2 linked regions of the Homo sapiens genome follow. The protein of the gene in region 2 interacts with the protein of the main gene of each other region in a biochemical or structural test. Each region holds a gene or a part of one and is shown on either strand. Other genes may lie near its edges. The genes, in order: PAM16 and DNAJC19.

Region 1 (7,621 bases), on a different chromosome or scaffold from region 2:
GTGCCACAACATCAGGGACCTGGCCAGTGGCTGGCGCAGTAAGTGCCCCTGGTGCATCTGAATGAATATGGCTGTTGCAGCTTTGCCCAATCTGCTGTCTCATGAACTCCATGTCCCCAGGCAGGGTTTCCAAGCGCCTCCTAACCCTTCTGCGGGAGGGTTCTGGCCATCTCCCAGTAAACACACAATTCTCCACCGCCGCCTGCAGATTTGGTCCACTCCCCAGCTTGGCATTCACAGCGCCTGGTCTGGCCTCAACTTCTCAACCTCACCTCTCTCCACGCTGCAGCCACACCCTCTGCTCCTAGAGCCGCTCTCATACTTCTGTACTCCTCAGGGCCTTTGCTGTTCTGAGTTCCTCCACCTTGAACATCCTCCCTTCTACCCTGATCCTGTCAAAACCCAACATCCCTCAGGACCTAATATCATTCCCCATCCCCCGGGTGAAACCCTTTCCAGGCTCTCCCATGTATACCTTCCGACAGCACTTTCTTTTTTTTTTGGAGATGGAGTCTTGCTCTGTCGCCCAGGCCGGAGTGCAGTAGTGCGATCTCGGCTCACTGCAGCCTCTGCCTCCCGGGTTCAAGAAATTCTTCTGCCTCAGCCTCCTGAGTAGCTGGGACTACAGGCACACGCTGCCATGCCCGGCTAATTTTTTGTATTTTTAGTACAGAGAGGGTTTCACCGTGTTGCCCAGGCTGGTCTCGAACCCCTGAGCTCAGGTAATCCACCCAAAGTGCTGGGATTACAGGCGTGAGCCACCGTACCCGGCCTAGCACTTTCTTTTTTTTTTTTTTTTTTTGAGACGGAGTCTTGCTCTGTCACCCAGGCCGGAGTGCAGTAGCGCGACCTTCGGCTCACTGCAAGCTCGGCCTCCCGGGTTCAAGCCATTCTCCTGCCTCAGCCTCCTGAGTAGCTGGGACTACAGGTGCCTGCCACCACACCCGGCTAATTTTTTGTATTTTTAGTAGAGACGGGGTTTCACCATGTTAGCCAGGATGGTCTTGATCTCCTGACCTCGTGATCCACCCGCCTGAGACCCCCAAAGTGCTGGGATTACAGGTGTGAGCCACCGTGCCCGGCCAGCACTTTCTTTTCCTGTTAATATACTGTCATGCTGGGTGCGGTGGCTCACGCCTATAATCCCAGCACTTTGGGAGTCCGAGGCAGGAGGACTGCTTGGGCCCAGAAGTTTGAGACCAGCCTGGCAACATGGCGAAACTGCATCTCTACAAAAAATACAAAAAATTAGCTGGGCATAGTGGAGCATGCCTGTTGTCCCAACTACCCGGGAGGCTGAGGCTACTGGGGAGGATGAAATGGGAGGATCACCTAAGCCCCAGGAGGTTGAGGCTGCAGTGAGCTGTGATCGTACCACTGTACTCCAGCCTAGGAGACCCATCTGGGGCAACACAGCAAGACCCCACCTCTACATAAAATTTAAAAATTAGCCAGGTGTGCTGGCACTCACCTGTAGGCCCAACTACTTGGGGGTCTAAGGTAGGAGGATGGCTTGAGCCTAGGAGTTCAAGGCTGCAGTGAGCTAGGATCGCTCCACTGCATCCTAGCCGGGGCGACAGACAGACATCCTATCTCAAAAAACAAACCAAAAAAACCCCATGAGTTTTGGGACAGAGCTGGGCTCAAAAGAGGTCTCTGACACCATGGGATGCATGACTATGGTGGAGTCAAAACTGTCTGGGGCTCAGGTTCCTTATCTGTAAAATAAGGACAATGACAGCAGGACTTCATAAACACTAAATGAGAGACTCTACATAAAGCCTTAGCTCAGGGGCTGGCACTTGTACGCCGTTAGCTGTTACATTATCCTTATTACTATGTTAGTTAAGAAGTGGCTCCCCGAACCAGCTGCAACAGAGTCACTTGGGGAACTTACGTGTGCAGAACCTCCAGGGATAGAGCTCAAGAACCTGAACTTTTTTTTTCCCCCTCTTTTTCTTTTTGAGAGAGTTTTGCCCTGTCGCCCAGACTGGAGTGCAGTGGCACAATCTTGGTTCACTGCAGCCTCTGCCTCCTGGGTTCAAGCGATACTGGCGCCTCAACTTCCCAAGCAGCTGGGATTACAGGTGTGTGCCACCATGCCTGGCTAACATATGTATATATTATGTGTGTGTGTGTGTATATATATATATAAAATACATGATATATAAAAATATATATAACATAATAATATGTAGTATACATAAATGTATACGGTATATATAATACATATATATAATTTTTTTTTTGAGACGCAGTCTCACCCTGTCGCCCAGGCTAGAGTGCACTGGCGGATCTCGGCTCATTGCAACCTCTGTCTCGCGGGTTCAAGCGTCTGTCCTGCCTCAGCCTCCCGGGTAGCTTGGACTACAGGCGCGCACCACCCCACCCGGCTAATTTTTTAAATTTTTTGGTGGAGACCGGGTTTCATCATGTTGGCCAGGCTGGTCTCGAACTCCTGACCTCGTGATCCGCCGCCTCGGCCTCCCAGAGTGCTGGGATTACAGGCGTGAGCCACCGCGCCCAGCCAAACCTGCACTTTTAAAGCTACCCTAGGTGACCTGACAGTGTGGCGCAGGTCTGTTGACTGGCTCTACGTGCCAACGATATCACACAAACGCTCCGTGCTCGGTGTCTCGGGGCCTAGTTCAAGTCCCAGGTCAGCCACTTCCCTGGAAAGGCCAGCTTTCCACTGGGGATAACAACAGGGCAGCAACATCGACTCTGCAGCGCTGTAAGGTTCCAGGGCAGGGGAGGCGCTCACCAGCCAGACTCATGCTCCACCGCTGCCCACGGCTGCTCGCTCACACGCGGGCTAGGCACAGCGCGACCACGTTTGCCCGGCCTCTTCCAGGCAGACGGTTTTCCCTGGCCCTGAGGCCGCCGGTGCCGCCGCTGCCGGCCTCGATTCCCCCGGGTGCAACGCCCCCAGACCATGCTTCCCGCCGGGCACGCAGGGGGCGCACGGCGCCCGCCGCCCAGCCCGGAGCTCGCCGCCCGGCCCCCGGCCCCCGGCCCGACTCGGCTTCCCCTCCCCGGTAGCGCCCGACTCGGGGCTCACCATGGCAGCCGCTCTGCCTCCGGGGCTCAAACTCCGACTTCCTGGCCCCGCGGCCGGGGATCAAGCGTGGTCGGCGGGTCAGAGGTCAAGGAAAGCCGCAGAGAGCGCGTGCGCGATACGGCGCTGGGCATGCGCATTGCCTCAGTCTAAGGGCGGGCCACCGGGAGCGTCTTAGCGGCTCGGGGCGGGGTCGGAGGCGGGGTTTGACTGAGCCTGCGTCGGGCTCTGGATAACTGGGGGCGGGCTTGGGAGGGCAAGGGGCGTTACCGGGAGTCTCAATTGCCCGCGTGCTTACCCCAGTGCGCTGGAGCAGCTAAGCACATCGGTCAGACGTGGGGCGATTTCTGCCCTTGATTTTGCCAAAATATTTGGGAATGCAACATTATATGAAATCAATGAACATAATATGGAGTAGGATGCTAAATTCTCAAAAATACTTTAGAAAATAGAAAACTTCAAAATAGGTTTCATCCACATTCCTCCTGCCTGAGAAGCTCGTTCCCTTCTTCAAATCTTTGCTCAAATGTCACCTCAATGAGGCCCACCTGGACCCCTTAAAACGCCGTGACTTGCCCTCCATGAATGAAAAAAGTAACAGCTTTATTGAGATATAATCCATACACTGTAGATTTCATGATTTTCAAGTGCACAGTCCAATGCCTTTTATTCACAGAGCTGTGCCACTGTCACCACTATTAGTTCCAGAACGTTTTCATCACCCATTAGTCACTCCCCAGCCCCCTCCCCCAGCCCCTGTCAACCACTCATTTTTCTCTCTATGGATTCACAGGTTCCGGACATTTCATAGAAATGGAATCATACAAGCCAGGCGTGGTGGCTCATGCCTGCAATCTCAAAACTTTGGGAGGCCGAGGTGGATCGCTTGAGGTCAGGAACTCAAGGCCAGGCTGGGCAACATGGTGAAACCCCATCTCTACAAATACAAAAATTAGCCGGGTGTGGTGGCAGGTGCCTGTAATCCCAGCTACTTGGGAGGCTGAGTGGTGGATCTCTTGAGCCCGGGAGGTACAGGCTGCAGTGAGCTGTGATCACTGCACTCCAGCCTGGGTGACAGAGTCAGGCCCTGCCTCAAAAAAAAAAAAAAAAAAAAAAAAGGTAAAAATGAAAAATGAAAAAAAAGAAGAAATTGAATCATACAATGTGCAGCCTTTTGTGACTGGCTTATCCTCCCTTCTTGTCTCTATTTTTCTTCCAAGACTCTGATCACCCTCTACCATACCACATAATTTACTTATTTATTTTATTTATCATTTTGAGACAGGGTCTCACCCTGTCGCCCAGGCTGGAGTCCAGTGGCACAATCCTGCCTCACTGCAACCTCCACCTCCCAGGTTCAGGCGATGCTCATGCTTTAGCCTCCTGAGTAGCTGGGATTACAGGCATGGACCACCATGCCCCATTAATTTTTGAATTTTTAGTAGAGACAGGGTTTCACCATGTTGGCCAGGCTGGTCTTGAACTACTGGTCTCAAATGATCCACCCGCCACAGCCTCCCAAAGTGCTGGGATTATAGGCATGTGACACTGTGCCCAACCGGTTTTTTATTTTTAAATTATTTTTCCTTTTTTTTTTTTTTTTGAGATGAAGTCTTGCTCTGTCACCCAGGCTGGAGAGCAGTGGCCCAATCTTGGCTCACTGCGATCTCCACCTCCTGGGTTCAAGTGATCCTCCCACTTCAGCCTCCGAAAGTGCTGGGATTACAGGTGTAAGCCACCGTGCCCAGCCAAAAAAAAATTTTTTTTTTTCAAGATAGGGTCTCACTCTGTTGCCCAGGCTGCAGTACAGTAGCATGATCATGGCTCACTGCAGTCTTGACCTTCCAGCCTTGAGTGATACTTTCACCTCAGCTTTCTGAGTAGCTGGGACCACAGGCATGTGCCAACACATGTGGTTAATGTTTGTTTTTTGTCTTTTTGAGAGCGTCTCCCTGTTGCCCAGCCTGGAGTGCAGTGGCATGACCTCGGCTCACTGCAACCTCTGCTTCCTGGGTTCAAGAGATTCTCTTGCCTCAGCCTCCTGAGTAGCTGGGACTACAGGCATGGGCCACCATGTCCGGCTAATTTTTTGTATTTTTAGTAAAGACGGGGTTTCACCGTGTTAGCCAGGATGGTCTCGTGCTCCTGACCTCGTGATCCGCCTGCCTTGGCCTCCCGAAGTGCTCGGATTACAGGCGTGAGCCACCGCGCCCAGCTAATGTTTGTATTCTTTGTAGAGACAAGGGTTCCCCTATGTTGCCCAGTCTGACCTCAAACTCCTGGGTTCAAGCAATCCTCCCACCTTGGCCTCCCTTTATTTTTATGTTTATTGTTGAGAATCTGTTTCCTTCCACTAGAATGGGAGTTCCTTTTGGGCAAGCATTTCCTCTCTCTTCTCTGCTGTTAGATGTCAAGCGCCTGGAAGAGCATCTGGCGCACAGCATTCGGCAAATGGTGGGATGAAAGTTGGGCCACCTGGAATCCTACTCTACACCGCTGCCCTTCTTCCTCTTCCTCCTGGCCTCCACATTCCTCTCTCTGTGCCCACATTGTACTTCCTTGCCTCGGAAGTGGCTCTCTCCCTGGCTGGCTCCTCATCAGCCTTCAAGTCTTGGCTCTTAGCTGAAAGTCACCTTCTCAGGCCCTGAATTCCCTGCCTCGCTGCATCCCAGTTGCTTCCTGTCCCACAGGTTTTTTTGTTTGTTTGTTTGTTTTTTGAGACTGAGTCTTGCTCTGTCACCCAGGCTGGAGTGCAATGGCAGGATCTTGACTCACTGCAACCTCTGACTCCTGGGTTCAAGCAATTCTCCTCCCTCAGCTTCCCAAGTAGCTTGGATTACAGGCGCTTACCACTACACCTGGCTACTTTTTGTATTTTTAGTAGAGACAGCGTTTTACCATGTGGGCCAGGCTGGTCTTGAACTCCTGGCCTCAAACGATCCTCCCACCTTGGCCTCCCAAAGTGCTAGTATTATAGGCATGAGCCACCGTGCCCAGCCAGTTTCTCTTCTTTACTGCTGTCTTCACACTCTATATGCTCGTGTGCAGTCTGGTTCCCCTGCATAAGGAGGCTGTAAGAAGCTGAAGGTCCTTGCAAGACCTTATCTCTCCTGTCCTTTATAGCATCCCGCCATCCAGAGCACTGCCAGGAACCTGCATGGTGAGCGAATGACTCCCAGCAGTGCGCAGGTGATTGGGCCTTGGGACCAGAGTGAGGCTGAGATAAAGGGGAGCCCAGGGCCAGACCCCTGTCACCCACATTCCTGTCCCCTTCCCTTTCCAGCCAGCCCAGAGACCACAGCAGCACAAGAGGTGGCCAGCTTAAAAAAGTTTAATTGCTGAAAACATCCAAGGCAGGTGCGGGCCAGTCCCTGCGGGGCTCACACCCCCCTTATTGGACCATCAGCTCTGTGATGCCCCCTTCTCCTGGCTACAAACCTGGGAAGTAGGGCAGCTGGTCCCAGGGCCCTGAGACTGGTGCTGCTCTAGAAGGCCTGGTGGGGGGCCAGCCCCCAAGGCCCTTGACCAGAACTGGAACAGCAGGCAAGATGGGGCAGCGTGGGGTGACCAAAGATCCTGGATGAGGCCAATCCAGGCTGGGACCAGCCCAGGTCAGCAGTGAGACCAGGGGAGACAGGGTGCCCAGGGCCTGCCCAGGGACATGCTGCTGACCCCCCGCCACCCTGCACCCCTGGCCACATGCTAGCGGGCAGCTGATGAGCAGCAGCTGACCCCAGAGACAGCAGAGGTGAAAACAGTCCCTGGGAACTGCCAGAGGCCCAGAGGATGTGGAAGTGCCCACGGGAAGGCAGGAGTGCAGGGGTGACATGTGCCGGGGCCAGAGAGGTATCTTCCAGCTTGAGGATGAGCCGTGAGGTGTGCACTAGGAAGTGGCAGCACAGGTGAGGTGGAGGTGACGGGGGCGCAGGCTAGTCCTGGGGCGAAACACCAAGAGGTGGGAGGGAGTCAGGAGGGCCTGGGAAGGGAGGAGGCATGCACCGTGGCATGTGCGAGGGACCGCGCTGCCTGCCGGGAAGTGAGGCCACTCACTACTCACCCACTCGTCCTCGTCCACGCCTTCAAAGGAGTCCTGGGGGAGTGGGTCCTCCCGGTTCCCCAGTTTTGCCACCATGGCATTCAGCAGCTGGGAGAGAGGGCAGAAGAAGGGTAGGTAAGGGAATAGGACTCCCTGTTCCCTCTCCCACTCCAAGAACAACCCTGACAAGGCTGTGAAAAGAACTTTTTTTTTTTTTTTAGACGGAGTCTTGCTCTGTCGCCCAGGCTGGATGGAGTGCAGTGGCGCGATCTCGGCTCACTGCAAGCTCTGCCTCCCGGGTTTACACCACTGTCCTGCCTCAGCCTCCCAAGGAGCTGGGATTACAGGCGCCCACCACCATGCCCGGCTAATTTTTTGTATTTTTAGTAGAGACGGGGGTTTCACCGTGTTAGCCAGGATGGTCTCGATCTCCTGACCTCGTGATCCGCCCGCCTCGGCCTCCCACGGTGCTGGGATTACAGGCGTGAGCCACAGCGCCCGGCCTTTTTGTTTGTTTGTTTGTTTTA
Region 2 (3,821 bases):
CAAAGGGTCACAGAATCTGTATTTCTCTTAGGAACTTGTTCCTTATTTGCTAATTCAGTGTTCATAGCCACCTTAAAGAACAGAATTACCACAAACAAGAACCAGCTGTACTTTCATGTCTCCTTGTCCCTGGAAATAATTTATCCTGCATAAAAGCCTTAGAAGCTAGTGTTTCATCATACACTAAATCATAACAGACTCCATCAGATTTTAAACGAGGGTATTGGATAGAAAACACAAAGAGCAGATATACCTTTACTTTATAAGGCAGATAAATATTACCTCCACTATTTTTTTAACCTCAAAAGTCCTTGTATCCTCCAATAATTAAGAAACTTATGATGACTTAAGGAAGTTTAGACGGTAGGTAGTATAATTTATCATCTTAGAGCTACACATAAGAAATACTCCTGTTGAGAAATACATACTAGTTTATACCAGATGTTTTATACAGGTCCTCTTAAGATCCTTATATATTTTATGTTAGACAAACAGTAAGTAATTTGCCTTTAAACATCATTTAAATTTATTAGTGTATAAATTCTAAAGAGTCCAAATTAAATATGTTGATATTGAGAACATTTCAGTTTTCAGTTTTGCTAACAGGGTTTAAGCTTAATCATAACAATTGCAGAAGTTTGATTATGTCAAGAAATAGCCAACTGAAGGAATAATTTATAAATGGTCATTACCTTTAAGGGGCTAGCTGAATACAATGTAAATACTCATGCCTGTAATCCCAGTACTTTGGGAGGCTGAGGCGGGAGGACTGCTTAAACCCAGGAGGTTGAGGCTGCAATGAACTGTGATTGTACCAGACCTGTACTCTGAAATCTTTATCATACTATTTTTAATGCATGAAATAAAAATGGTTTATATGTACATAGAATACACACACACACACACCCCTAGGTCAATTTCTTAGGTCTCAGTTGTGGTTAAATTCACTTTTAAATACAAGGTTCCAAGTATCCAAGTTGCCAGGCCAGTTGCCTGTACCTGGAACAGCCTTTCCACCGAATAAGAAGAGTCCCTACTTAAACAGCTTAAGCTAATTTCCATCATACTATTTATCACAGTCTAATTACCAGTTTATCAGTCTCCCATTAAAGTGGGGGCTCCCTGAGAGCAAGGACTGTCATCTTCACTTTGCCTTGAAAAGTAGACATAGGTCCCAAATTATCTGCTAAATGAGTAATGAACAATATTTCTATTCAGAAGGTGTGTGCTTGCCCATAATTAATACGCAAATATTCTAAACTATAATCTGATTTAAAATCCCCAAATTTAAACAAGAAAATTATACCAAGGCTTTGAGATTTAGCTTGTGCTAAATCATTTTTTAAAATTGTAGCTCTGAGGCATTTTATTATAAAAACTTAGTACTCATATACATAAACTAATACGAACTTAAAATTCATCATACATTTACTTCATTTTTTAGCTTGACCTTCTAGTAAATCTTTAGCTTCATTGATTTTGGCTGCTATATAAGGAGATCCTCCTATAGGAAGAAAGAAAAAAGAACAGTTACAATATGGATTCTCAATTTCTGCTTGGTAAAAAGCTACTCTTGTTTCAAGGACTCCAATGCTTATCTGAGGGAGATTTAGCAGAAACAGTGTTTTAATTTTTAAAAAATAACCCTGACACTGCAACTGGATGACCAAATATATGGTAATATATGTGACCAATGAGAAATGAAGTAATTTACGTGGGAGATATTTCTACAAAAATAACACCTTTTTAGAAAGCTTAAACTGATAGAAATAGGATTTCTATCATATATATTAGATATATATGTATATGCCTTTGAACTGGTGTTAGCCTATTCATGATTACAGGTCATAAATGAACATCAATTATACCATGTTATTTTAATACCATGATATTCTCAGAGGCTTCTGAGCTGTTTACTGGAAAGATCCCAGTTTGCTTTACATCCTTTTTCTGTCCAGTTTTTCTTTTCCTGTTATCTACTGTCCCTTCACAATGTCATCTACAGCTGCTTTCCTACGAATCTGCTGGAGGAGTGATTCTCAAAGTATGGTCCTAAGACCAGCAAGAAATAACAGGAAATTTAGTATAAATGCATATTTATGGGGCTCCACTGCCGACCTACTGAGTCAGAAGCCCTCCATATAAAACAAGCTAAATTTCATAAAAGATACTGTGAAGTAGATATCAAACAATTATAACCCTGTTTAAAATGTCAAAACCCTTTTTATTAATGAAAGCCCTCTCCTGTATAAGTAAAAGGATACAAACACTAGAACATGAATTCTGTGGTCTATTTTTTGGTATTCAAAGAAATTCTTGCTTTCCTTCAACACAGCCAAGGCTGCATAGAAGTCTATCACAAACGAATAAATAAATCCCATAAGTTTCTATCTAGGTAATCTCCGTTTCAAGGTATCTAAAATGGATAAGGAAAAATTACATTTTAGTTTTACGAAATTTAACGTTTTAATTATAATAAATGTAGGCCAGAAAAACCCACAAAACATAGTAATAGTAGCACTTACATCTGCTCATTCTGTAAGTAAAGTTTTCACTTAATTTCTTTTAAGACACCAAAAATATATGGCTCCAGCCTAGGAGACAGGACTTACAGATTTAAGTGTTACCTTTCTAATAGCCAGGAATTTGAGATAAAATTATCCCATTAATAACTATTGGTCACACCAACAACATCAACGAGAATTTAATGACTACTTACCTTTGTCAGGATGATTTAAAAGCATAATTCGTCGATGAGCATCTCTTATTTTCCCTTTATTGGCAGTAGGGCTAATTAAAAAAAGAAATGGTATTTACTTCATCCTACTTCTGCATCACATCAAAAAACTGTACATAAAGGCCAATTAAAGACACTGTGAAACTGTAGTAAATTAACACAACAGTATGAAAAGCTGTTTAGAAACCTCAACACACCCAATGCGTATCCTAAATTGGGAAACTACTTAGAAAAGTAAGGCACTCTCAAAAATGTGTTGAACTTGCAGTACCCATTACAACAGTCCTTTTATTGATAAGAAACGCATGTTTAAGGATTTGAAAATGAAGAAGGAAGAGTTTTGTTTTTTTTTTTTTTTGAGATAGTCTCACTCTGTCCCCTAGGCTGGAGTGCAGTGGCTTGATCTTGGTTCACTGCAACCTCGGCCTCCCGGGTTCAAGCGATTCTCCTGCCTCAGCCTTCCGAGTAGCTGGGATTACAGGTGTGTGCCATTACGCCTGGCTAATTTTTGTATTTTAAGTAGAGACGGGGTTTCACCATGTTTGCCAGGCTGGTCTTGAACTCCTGACCTCAAGTAATCCACTGGCCTTGGCCTCCCAAAGTGCTGGGATTACAGACGTGAGTCACCGCGCCCGGTTGAAGGCAGAATTTCACCACAAAAAAAATGTCAGTTACAGAGAACAACACTGAACACTGTGATAATCTGCTGAGGAGTCTATCTTTAAATAAATGAAAAAGTGCCTGTGTTTTAGTAAACACTCTAGGAAAAAAGAAAAAGTGCTTAAGTGCTAGTGTGCCTTCTCATTTGAAGGATTGTTTACATCTTAAAAATAACATGAAGGAACAGTACAGTTTCATTGATTAGAATTGGTAATATCAATCTTCCTAGGACAAAATCCCCCATGACCCTCTCCTATTAAAGGAGAGAAGGTCTTTCTTATATTTCCTCATGGCTCTACAGTGGTAGAAAAATGCTAAAAATATTAGAGATTATTTTACCTTACACCTAGTATTAATGCTGCTTCCCGTTTTGTCATTTTGGGTTCAAACCCACCTCTATAATAGCCACCACTGAAGGCCTGAA

Evidence for each region.
Region 1: the proteins of DNAJC19 (region 2) and PAM16 form a complex in vitro, tested with the Homo sapiens proteins (one study listed by BioGRID).

Annotation. Positions count from the first base shown.
Region 1 is NC_000016.10:4,348,171-4,355,791, forward strand, and holds the start of PAM16 (mitochondrial import inner membrane translocase subunit TIM16), read right to left. Parts: upstream 3,152-7,621; 5' UTR 3,065-3,151; coding exon 3,062-3,064; intron 1-3,061. Other genes in the region: CORO7-PAM16 protein, read right to left, coding at 7,116-7,202; CORO7 (coronin-7), read right to left, coding at 6,988-6,993, 7,116-7,202. UniProt on the Homo sapiens protein: Regulates ATP-dependent protein translocation into the mitochondrial matrix. Inhibits DNAJC19 stimulation of HSPA9/Mortalin ATPase activity.
Region 2 is NC_000003.12:180,983,207-180,987,027, forward strand, and holds the end of DNAJC19 (mitochondrial import inner membrane translocase subunit TIM14), read right to left. Parts: intron 3,817-3,821; coding exon 3,737-3,816; intron 2,791-3,736; coding exon 2,720-2,790; intron 1,505-2,719; coding exon 1,434-1,504; 3' UTR 503-1,433; downstream 1-502. UniProt on the Homo sapiens protein: Mitochondrial co-chaperone which forms a complex with prohibitins to regulate cardiolipin remodeling.